Regions from separate parts of the Homo sapiens genome. Here region 2 is linked to region 1. The links come from fine-mapping of genetic effects on gene expression. A gene starts in region 1. The other region holds a variant in brackets. All regions are shown on one strand. Distances are from middle to middle.

The links. PIP is the estimated chance that this variant, and not a neighbour inherited with it, causes the effect. A credible set is the group of variants that fine-mapping cannot tell apart.
Region 2: its variant is the best candidate, but not a certain one, in a credible set for the expression of ACRV1 in lymphoblastoid cells (GEUVADIS, PIP 0.73).

What each region holds. Positions count from the first base shown.
Region 1 is chr11:125,678,343-125,683,733 of GRCh38, forward strand. It overlaps ACRV1 (acrosomal vesicle protein 1), which reads right to left and starts at 2,505. Exons shown (of 4, transcript NM_001612.6): 1 at 2,387-2,505. The coding sequence starts at 2,438. LOC105369551 (a long non-coding RNA gene) reads left to right here and starts at 4,977. Exons shown (of 2, transcript XR_007062934.1): 1 at 4,977-5,391. It also overlaps a transcript of CHEK1 not described here.
Region 2 is chr11:125,654,169-125,659,559 of GRCh38, forward strand. CHEK1 (checkpoint kinase 1) reads left to right here. Exons shown (of 13, transcript NM_001114122.3): 13 at 1,057-2,979. The coding sequence ends at 1,152. Among named protein-coding and RNA genes, the nearest start is that of ACRV1, 24 kb to the right of the region's middle. The variant T/TTGTGTG (reference allele first, on the strand shown) is at 3,019.

The sequences.
Region 1 (5,391 bases):
TGGGATAAAGACTATCTTCCTATGGAGTTAGGCTAATGTTATGAGACTCCTAGGTTTCCTATGGGCCTAGATTGGGCACCTGAAGACTGCAGATGTTGGGAAAAATCAACTAAGTATCCCAAAAGGCCATGGAGGACAGAAGTGTTTAGTGAAACAAACAGAGGCCACCTCTGGGATTGAAGGGAAGAATCTTAAGTTCCCCAATATTAAGAACTACTTAGGAGAATCCACTCATCCATGTACAAAAAACCCCTGAAGGAAAATGAATGTGCCTCCCTGACAAAGTCAGCATCAGGAAGTCAGGATACCATCCCTGATAGAATCAGAAGTTCGCCACCAACCCTCCCATTCCTCTATGGGTGAAAGACAAGAAGAGTAGAGATAGAAGAGGGAGAGAGAAAGCAAGTAGTTTTCAATACCTGAGTATTTGTAACCTAAATTAAGGGCGGAAGAGTTAACCTTTGGACAGGGATGACAAGTATGAGCCCACAAAAATTATCAGAAGGGATTAAGCCGCCTGTATTTGGTAATGTCAAGTATTTTCTCACACTCAATCCCCAATCCATGTGGGTTGGGGATTCAGAGAGCAAAGTTGCTATAAGCTATTAAGGTAAAAAAAAAAAAGTCTAGGCATATTATATATATATATATATATAGACACACACACATATATGAATTGTATCCTTGTGACATACCATTTACATTCACTTCATGGAGTTGTCCTGAGTACTTAATAAGATAAATTGTGAAGTGCACCATTGCCTAGTACTCAATTTTATTTTTCTTTTCTTCCCACCTTACACTGGGAATTACAAAACTCTTACATGGTTATTTTTTTCTGGCCAGTCTCTTCTACCTTTAATCCGTCTCTTTCTTTTTTTTTTTTTGTTTCAAAGATAGAGTCTCGCTCTGTTGCCCAGGCTGGAGTACAGTGGCACAATCTTGGCTCACTGCAACCTCCGCCTCCCGGGTTCAAGTGATCCTCCTGCCTCTGCCTCCCGAGTAGCTGGGATTACAGGTGCATGCCACCATACCTGGCTAATTTTTGTATTTTTAGTAGAGACAGGGTCTCGCCATGTTGGCCAGGCTGGTCTTGAACTCCTGACCTCAAGTGATCCGCCCGCCTCAGCCTCCCAAAATGCTGGGATTACAGGCATGAGCCACTGTGTCTGGCCAATCCATCTCATCATTGACTGTCAGACAAATATTCCTTAAGTATATTTTAAGTGAACAGAAGCACAAAACAGATAATTTGATTATTACTCTTTGATTAAACTGAGCCACCTAGAGGAAGACAAGTAGACTACAACAACCAAGTTATTTAATTCTAGCCAAAAGCTGAGAGGAATTATTGGATCTTTGAGGCTGAGGTAGTCTAAAACCCCAGAGTACTCAAAACTCTAAGAATCTTGCGATAGATATATTTTCTTGGCACAGTGCAGTACTTACAATCAGTGACTTTCTAAATGACTAGGGTGAGAATATGTTGATAAAGGAAAGGTAAGATTTAGTAAAGCTTTTAGGAGGTTTTTATTTTTTAAACTTATTACATAAATACTATCTACTTGACTGGTTTTTCAATAATTAACACAAGTTTTGATAAAGAGATGTTTCTGATATAGAAAGGAGACATAAAAAGCATGCTAATTTCTTGATCTTATAGTTTATGACTCGTGTCACCATGTGACTGGCACATACTATCACCTGGTGGCTGTGTATCTACATTTTTGAGTCAACTTTTGAAGGTCTAACAAAGCAAAAAGCAAAACCTCTGACAGTCGACATTATAGAAAATACATTGTTTTTTCACTGAAAGCTCAGAGCTCATGGCCTCTTTCTGCTGTAGGAGGCAGGAGGGAACACAGCACACCATGAATGGGGGATCCCAAAAGAAGAGATGATACAGAAAACCTGATTGATATAACACAGCCATGAAGAAGAGGCTTATGAAGTCTCTGGCCTATAGCTCTGTCGTGTTCTGAGGTTGTTTTCTGAACACATTACATCTTCCCATCTCCCATCTTTCCTTGGCACATTAACCACACAAGGATCCCTCACATTTAATTGGTGGGACAAACCTTCATTGGGCTTCTACAGAACCCCTAAGCCTACTTTTTCATCTCATGCAGCATCAGGTATAAATGTTGAGTGGCTAAAATAAGTAGAAACCAGACTGTGCCAAGCCAGTGGGACCCTCTGACTGTAAAGCTATGACTAGAGAAATCAACTGGTTCAGGAGCTCTCCGAGTTGGACTTGTTTAGCTGCTCTTGATTCTGACTCAGATTGGTTTGGGTGACTGAGAGACTGGTCTTCCTTCTTCAAGGCCTGAAATGTCTTAAGGGAGACCCCTTTTGTATTTACCTGAAGCCTAGATCAAACACTCACCTCTGGCAGATCCAAGCAGATAAAGACTCATTAGCAAGAGAAACCTGTTCATCTGGATTTAGGAAAAGAGGGGACCCCAGTGTGGGCCACAGCTTCTTCACAGAGCTATGAAGCAAACTGCGAGCAAAAGCTTCCAGTGCTGAAGCAGAGCTTCTGGGAATTCTAGAACCTCAGAAGTAACCCATGTTTCTTCACAATGGGTTGGGCTCTGAGGTTCTTGTGTAGCCTGTTCAGGCAAGTTGGCCCTTAGCAACCCACTGCTTATTTCACTAGTGAAGACCAATGATTATTTTCTGTGTGCAGGGTAGTGTGTTGGGGCTATCTGCCCTATCTTTAAAAAAAAAAAAAAAGTATTACCAAAAAGCACATATTTTTTGTAATAAAGTTTAAAAGATATCTACTGTCTTTTAAAAGTGTTTTTGACAATGAGATGTAATTGTTGATTGTTTTCTGTTTGGCTTTCTAAATCAGCCTTTCTTGGCTCTGATCTGTACCCTGGAAGGTTGACCTCTGTTGACTTTATCACCTGAATGCTGGCTGGATTTGGCTTCAGATTGGGTTTATACAGGATTGGAGGGGAGAAGAGAGAAAGAGAGAGAGGAAGAGGGAAGGGAGGAATGGGGAGAAAGAGAGCGAGACTGGAATATTTGTTCTTCCTATTCCCTTCCTGCCACAGTTGACACTGGCTGAGTCTACATGACAGAGCTTCTGTTGGGTGTCCTCTCTTCCATGGCTCCAGCTCTCATCCATGCTATGGTAATATGTTTTTCTCCCCCTGCCCTCTTAGGCCTAGGGATGATAATGGTTTCCTGCTGTTACTAAAATCTGGATGCCCAAACTTATCTCTTTTTTTGTTTGTTTGTTTCCTTAACCTTGCCCACTTCTGTAAATAGTCTTTTCATACAGACCTTTATCAACATGGTTTTAGCAGGAAACAGGTGGCAAACTCAAATGGGTAACTGAGGAGAGTTTACACAGATATGGGCAGAGTAAAGAGATCAAGAGACAGTAGAAAGCTGCGTTTTGAGCTGCAACTTGGTAGCAAGGGGGTGGCCAAGCTGAGAAGATGGATGCAGTGAGGCATCCACCTGATATAAAACTAGAACTTATGGAGGATTGAGTGGCAAAGATCTGGTAGCTTCCATTTCTCGCTGCTTCTCTGCTCAGCTCTCTTGAACAACTTTGTTTTATATACCACTGAATGCTAAATCTAGAATAGATGTACTTATTGTTACATTTTGAAAGGAAGGTGAGGGTTAAAGAAAGAGAGAGTGGCGGCTCTACATCAAATCCAGGCTTTCTGTCTAGCATAAGACCTACAGAGGTGGGGGACTAGCTTAATGCCAGTGCCCACTGCTTCGTACAGGTTGGGGTACTTGTAGGTATGAGCAGGACGGGTCTGGGCAGTATGGCTTGCTGCCTGGGAAGATGTTCCCATAATGAGGCATTTTGGCCCTTGTTCCCGCAGAATGTGATGCTGATGTTCCTTGGACTTTTTCCCAGCAGAGTGTGATAAAGTCAGGGAGGCAGTTGGACAGGCTGTTTCTAAGGGCCCAAACCCCCGTGGAATGCTTCACTTTAGCCAAGGTCTGCAAAATGGCGGGGGTCGGTGGGGGTTACGAAATGGTGCAGTTTGGACTAACACTTTATCACTGTTATAATTATTTGTTTCATGTTTGTACTCCCCGTTGGACTCTAAGCTTGAATGCAGAGACCCTGTCTTGACTATTGTTGTAGTCCCAGTACCTAGCAGCATGCCTAAGCTTTTCCTGAAGGAAGGAAGGAATGAGTTACCTTTTGGGGCCTCTCTCTGCCTCATAGAGGAGAATTTATAGAGAATCATGTAAGAGAATCTATAGAAGAGAATCTGGATTAAGGTTCTGGGTTAGTTGAAGACAGCAAGATCACCAGGGATCAAAAGTTACTTGACTTGAGTTAGAGGATAAAGCTAGGATTTCTGAGCCTCAGGCAGGTTCCTTTACAGTAGAGAAAGGTATGAAAGAGCATGCTATCAATAATTCTTTTCCTCCAGGATGAGTTTGGAAGAACAGCTATGAGCCTTGGGTCTGACTTTTGTTGATAGAAGCAGTGGAAATTAGTAGAAGGGAAGAGGTGCTATCTATTCCACCCTAACTTAGAACATAGAAAGACAGACAGTGGGCTCTGGAGAGCTGATGCTTTCAGCTGAAAACAATTGTTTTTAAAAATTCCCTATGTAAATTTGCTTCAAAATAACCTAAATGAGGGATTGTAGCAATGAACGGGGAAAGAAGATAAAATAAGACTGGACACAGTGGCTTGTGCCTGTGATCCTAGCACTTTGGAAGGCTGAGGCGAGCAGATCACCTGAGGTCAGGAGTTCAAGACCAGCCTGGCCAACATGGTGAAACCCCATCTCTACTAAAAATACAAAAAAATTAGTCGGGCATGGTGGCGGGCACCTGCAATTCCAGCTACTTGGGAGGCGAAGGCAGGAGAATCGCTTGAACCTGGGAGGTGGAGGTTTCAGTGAGCTGAGACTGTGCCATTGCATTCCAGCCTGGGCAACAAGAAAGAAACTCTGTCTCAAAAAAAAAAAAAAGAAGATAAAATAAGATTGGTCCTGTGTGCATGATTGTTGAAGCTGTGTGATGGGTACATGCGGGTACTCTCTACTTTTGTATATGTTTGAAACTTTCTATACTGAAAATCTTCAGGGTGGAGGGCAGAAATACCTATTTGGAAAGCCTAGATAATCAATGCCTTATTTAAAATAGCTTCAGGGGATGATGGAGAAGTCTTTTTAATATGTGTGTGCATTAAGACCTAGATAGGAGCTTAACTGCTCCCTATTATACAACTATCCTACACCCAGGGCTGGCTTCCTGAGCAGGCGCATGGGCCCACACTCAAAAGGGCCCTGGTTTCTTGCTTTGCTTTCAATCTCTGGAAATTCTTCGTCACTTTCTAACAAAGGCGCCTCATTTTTGCGTTGCACTGGGTCCCACAAGTGCTGTCTCCAGTCC
Region 2 (5,391 bases), 24 kb before region 1:
AAATACAAAAAATTAGCCAGGCGTGGTGGCGGGTGCCTGTAATCCCAGCTACTTGGGAGGCTGAAGCAGGAGAATCATTTGAACCTGGGAGGCGGAGGTTGCAGTGAGCCGAGATGACGCCACTGCACTCCAGTCTGGGTGACAATACAAGAGACTCTGTCTCAAAAAAAAGAAATTTCTGCTTTTGTGAAAAATGTAGATAAGCAAAAAATGAGAAAATAAAAATAATTCTAAATTTTCAGTGATCACATTAATATTTCGAAGCATTTTAATATTTTTCTTAATTTATGTCTTTTAATAAAAATTATGATTTGTTACAAATATTTCATTATAATTTAATGAACCTTTACCAGTTATAATAATTCTGTGATTGCTATTTTATGCATAGATTTTTTTGTTCATATTTCTGATGATTTCTTTAGAAATCATTGATTCTAAGATGATAGTATTACAGCCCTTGATATATAAAACCAAAATAACATTTTTCTCTATTTTCTGAGAGATTGTATGTGGCTCTAAAGAGGGTTGGAGGGGTAGCTGCTGTGTTAGAGCATTTGCCGCAGTACTCTTTGTATTAGAGATTTGCTGCAATACTGTTTTTCAGATGCTTGCTACAGAATTAAATTAAGATCGTAGTATAATGAAATTCTTCTCATAACTAAATCTATTGATTTTGGTCAGTAGTGTTATGACAACAAGACTTCAGTTTAGTTGTATAGTTTATTGTTAGTTTCCAAACCCTCACTGCCTATGGAATGTAATGACTTAGGTCCAGATATACCAACACCTGAAACAGATAGGATGCCATGTTTATCTGCTCTCTGAGCTCAGTGCAGTAGGAACAGTGATGGGCATGAAACCACATCAGAATTATTTGTGTAACAATTTTCTCTTCCAGGATATTTGGTCTTCATAAACAGACCGAAAAGAAAATGGTAGCTAGACATACCTAAAGATGTTTGTCTCTTGTTACCACTACAAAGAGATTGATTTTAGGACAGAATTTTGTTTTTGTTTTTGTTTTGACATAATTTTTTAATACTATTTCTAATATAGGGTGATGGATTGGAGTTCAAGAGACACTTCCTGAAGATTAAAGGGAAGCTGATTGATATTGTGAGCAGCCAGAAGATTTGGCTTCCTGCCACATGATCGGACCATCGGCTCTGGGGAATCCTGGTGAATATAGTGCTGCTATGTTGACATTATTCTTCCTAGAGAAGATTATCCTGTCCTGCAAACTGCAAATAGTAGTTCCTGAAGTGTTCACTTCCCTGTTTATCCAAACATCTTCCAATTTATTTTGTTTGTTCGGCATACAAATAATACCTATATCTTAATTGTAAGCAAAACTTTGGGGAAAGGATGAATAGAATTCATTTGATTATTTCTTCATGTGTGTTTAGTATCTGAATTTGAAACTCATCTGGTGGAAACCAAGTTTCAGGGGACATGAGTTTTCCAGCTTTTATACACACGTATCTCATTTTTATCAAAACATTTTGTTTAATTCAAAAAGTACATATTCCATGTTGATTTAATTCTAAGATGAACCAATAAAGACATAATTCTTGTGACTTTTGGACAGTAGATTTATCAGTCTGTGAAGCGAAGCCAGCTTCAAAACATATCCCCAAGATTTGTACTTATATTTTCAAAAGGGCCTGGCCAGTTATATAAACCTGTTTTTGAATTATAATGATTAATTAAAATTGCAAGTAGGTGTTTTTTCCAGTGTAGTTAGTAAAATACTTGTATTTTACAGTGTTGCATAAACTCTAGTGCTTAACTAACTTTACTCTAAAAATTACTGTTGAACATCTTAAATATTTTTCTATATTTTCTACTTTCATAGCCATATTTTAACCTTTTCAACTTACTGGTGACCAAGCTTTTAGGTGATAAAGAATAAAAGAGGGAAGGGAAGAGTAAGGAAGCTATAAGAAAAATAGATCTGATTCTTTGTTCCTTTACCTGTTAGACTTACAAAAAGTTTGTTTTTCTAATAAAATTTGTATCAACTTTGGGGCATATTAGGTTGAGGCCTTGGCTCCTGCCTGTAGTCCCAGCTACTTAGGAGGCTGAGAGAGGAGGATCGCGTGAACCTGGAAGTTTGAGGCTGTAGTGAGCTATGATTGCACCAGTGCACTCCAGCTTGGATGACAGAGTAAGACCCTACCTCTAATAAAAATTTTTAAAATTGTAAAACATTATAAAATTAATCAGTTATTTTAATCTGAAGCCAAGAACATGTAGAATGTTATGATTAGAGTTTATCACATATTAATGTATACTGGCAAATTGTGTTACTGGAGTATACCCATAGGAGGAATAAATTCAAACCTGTTTTATTTATTTGAACCTATTTACGGTATGCTTAAGAATTGAATCAGTATAAATTCTCAAATATGGGAGAAATTTTGTTCTTGAGAATTATCTGAGTCATTAATATTTTTCAAAAACAGCTCTCACTGACTTGAACCTCTTCTGTAAGCTCTAACCTTTTACCTGCTTTACATTTCCACTTGAATGTCTAGTAGGCATCTCTTGACCAAAAACAGCTTTTGATTCCTGTTCTCCAACCTGTTCCTCTCCTAGTTTTCTCCATCTCAGAAATGTTACTTCCTCTGCAAAGTCTTTCCCTGACTTATCTAAAATAATAACCTCCTCTGTTTGCTGTGGGAATTTGTATAGAATGGTGGGAAAATTTCAAGTTTCATATTTGGATTAGCTCTGACATTTATTTATCTGAACACTGGTAATTGCCTCAGTAAAGACACTGATAATAAGTACCTTTTAGAGTTATTTTAATCTTTAATGCTTTAATGTGTAGGAAGAGTATAGTGTCCTGTTTTGCACAGAAAGGCATTCTGTAAATAATAAGTTGCCTTAATTTTCCTGTAATGTTCATTATATTGTTGTGGGAAGGTATTTACTCCTATTATTAAAAATAAAAATGTGTAAAATTTACTACCTGAAGATAACAGTTCAAATTTTGATGGAAAAATCAACCTATGC[T/TTGTGTG]TGTGTGTGTGTGTGTGTGTGTGTGTGTGTGTAATGTGTACAGTGTGTGTGGTTGTTGAGATAAGCATAATTATATAAAAATATGTGTGTGTGTGTTTAATGTGTACAGTGTGTGTGGTTGTTGAGATAAGCATAATTATATAAAAATACATAAAATATGTACACTTCAATGTGCAGTTGTAAAGTTAACATTCACTTAACCACAACTCAATTGTAGAAAGATCATTTACAGACCCTTAAGAACTTCCTATATGCAGTCTCCCAATCACAACCCACTTCTTTCCCCCAGAAATAATCACAAAATAGACTTTGGTGATAATCTTTTCCTTCGTGTGTTTTAGAGTGTTCTCAGCTATTTATGCAAATAATATCATTTAGTTTATGTATTTTTAATTAATATGGTTTTTATTAACGAACTTTATATACATTTTGCTGTATTTTTCATGTGTTGATTTTTTATAGCCATGCTTTTGTGCATATTGAATTCATTAATTTTAATTTTTATATAGGATGTATTTATGAACATCCCACTAACTATTCTGCTGCTAATTGATATTTGGATTGTGTACAGTTCGATGCTATTATAAAATTCTTCTAAGGACATTCTTGTACATGTTCATTTGTTTTGCTAGGTCCTAGAGTCTAAGGTATATATCCAGAAGAGGAATAGCTGGATATTAGGATAGAATAATGACAAACTGTTTTCTAAAGTGATTGTACAGATTAGTGTTTCCATAGGAGAAAAGTGTACAGTTACTGGAAAAACAGTTTGGAATGATCTAAAGCATAAGAATGTTCATAGCAACAGAATGTATTTCTAGTATTCCAAATTTTCACCTACAGTTGGTGTGGTCAGTATAAGTTGTTGTTTTTGTTTTTGTTAATGTTTTTTTTTCCTTTGAGACAGGGCCTCACTTTGCTGCCCAGGCTGGAGAGCAGTGGTACAAACATGACTCACTGCAGCCTTAGCCTTGCAGGCTCAAGCAATCCTCCTGCCTCAGCCTCCCAAGTAACTGGGACCACAGGCACATGCCACCACACCTGGCTAACTTTTGTATTTTTTGTAGAGACAGGGTCTCACCATGTTGCCCAGTCTGGTCTAGTCTGTTTTAACAAGTTGTTGCTGTGTAATGATATATGTGTGGTGTTAATTTGCTTGTTCCTAAGTTTAAATGAGGTAGAGCATTTTATGACATGCCTGTTCTAGTCTTTTGCTTATTTTTCTAATTGCCTTTTCTTTTTCTTAATAATTTCAGTTCTTCATATGTTCAGCATACTAGTCCTTTGTCAATTTACATGTATTGAATATATATACTCTCCCATTCTGCGGCTTATTGTTCCATTCTTCATGAACATTTGTAATTTTAATGTCCTATTTAGACCTTTCCTCTGTCTATTGTTTTATATTTTGTATTAAAGGAGTCATTCATTACTCCAAGATCATGAAGATTTTCTTGTATGTAATCATGTAATCTTCTTAAAAGCTTCATGGCTTTTGCTTTTTTTTTTTTTTTTTTTTTTTTTTAAGAGTCTTGTTGTGTCTCCAAAGCTGGAGTGCAGTGGCACAATCACAGCTCACTGCAGCCTCAGCCTCCCTGGCCCAAGTGATCCTTCCACCTCAGCCTTCTGAGCTGGGACTATAGCCATGCACCACCATGCCCAGCAAATTTTTTATTTTTTGAAGAGACCAGATTTCACTGTGTTGCCGAGGCTGGTTTCGAATGCCTGGGCTCAAGTGATCATCCTGCCTTGGCCTCCCAGAGTGCTGGGATTACAGGTGTGAGCCACCATGTCTGCCTGGCCTGTTTTTTGGCTGATTTAGGTCTATAATTCATCTGAAATTGGCTTTTGTGTAGAATGTGAGGTAGAGATTAGGTTTCATTTTTTTCCTTCATATGGCTATCCAGTTTAGCACTGGTTATTGAAAAGATCATTATTTTTTTTCACTAGTCTTCATTGATATCCAATCAAGTACTCAAATGTTTTAATTATTTTTTATACTTTGTATTGAATCAGATCCAAATAAAGTTTAAACATAATAATCGATTGATGTCTTTTAAGTTGCTTTTAGTCTGTAAGTTCCCTCTTTATTCCCTTTTTTTTCTCTTGCAGTTTATTGGTTGAAGAATCCAGCTGGTTTACTCTATGATTTTCTTAAGTCTAGATTTGTGGGTTTGATTGCTATGATAGTTTCAGATCTTTCTTCTATTTTCTGCATATCCTATAAATACATTCGAGATACTAGTCCTGTGTCAATTATATGTTGCATATAGGCATTTTATAAATTTCCTAAGTACCATTTTTCTTCATGCCACAAATTTTTATGTGTACTATTTTTGTTATCCAGCTCAAATTTTTTTCTAATATTGTTAT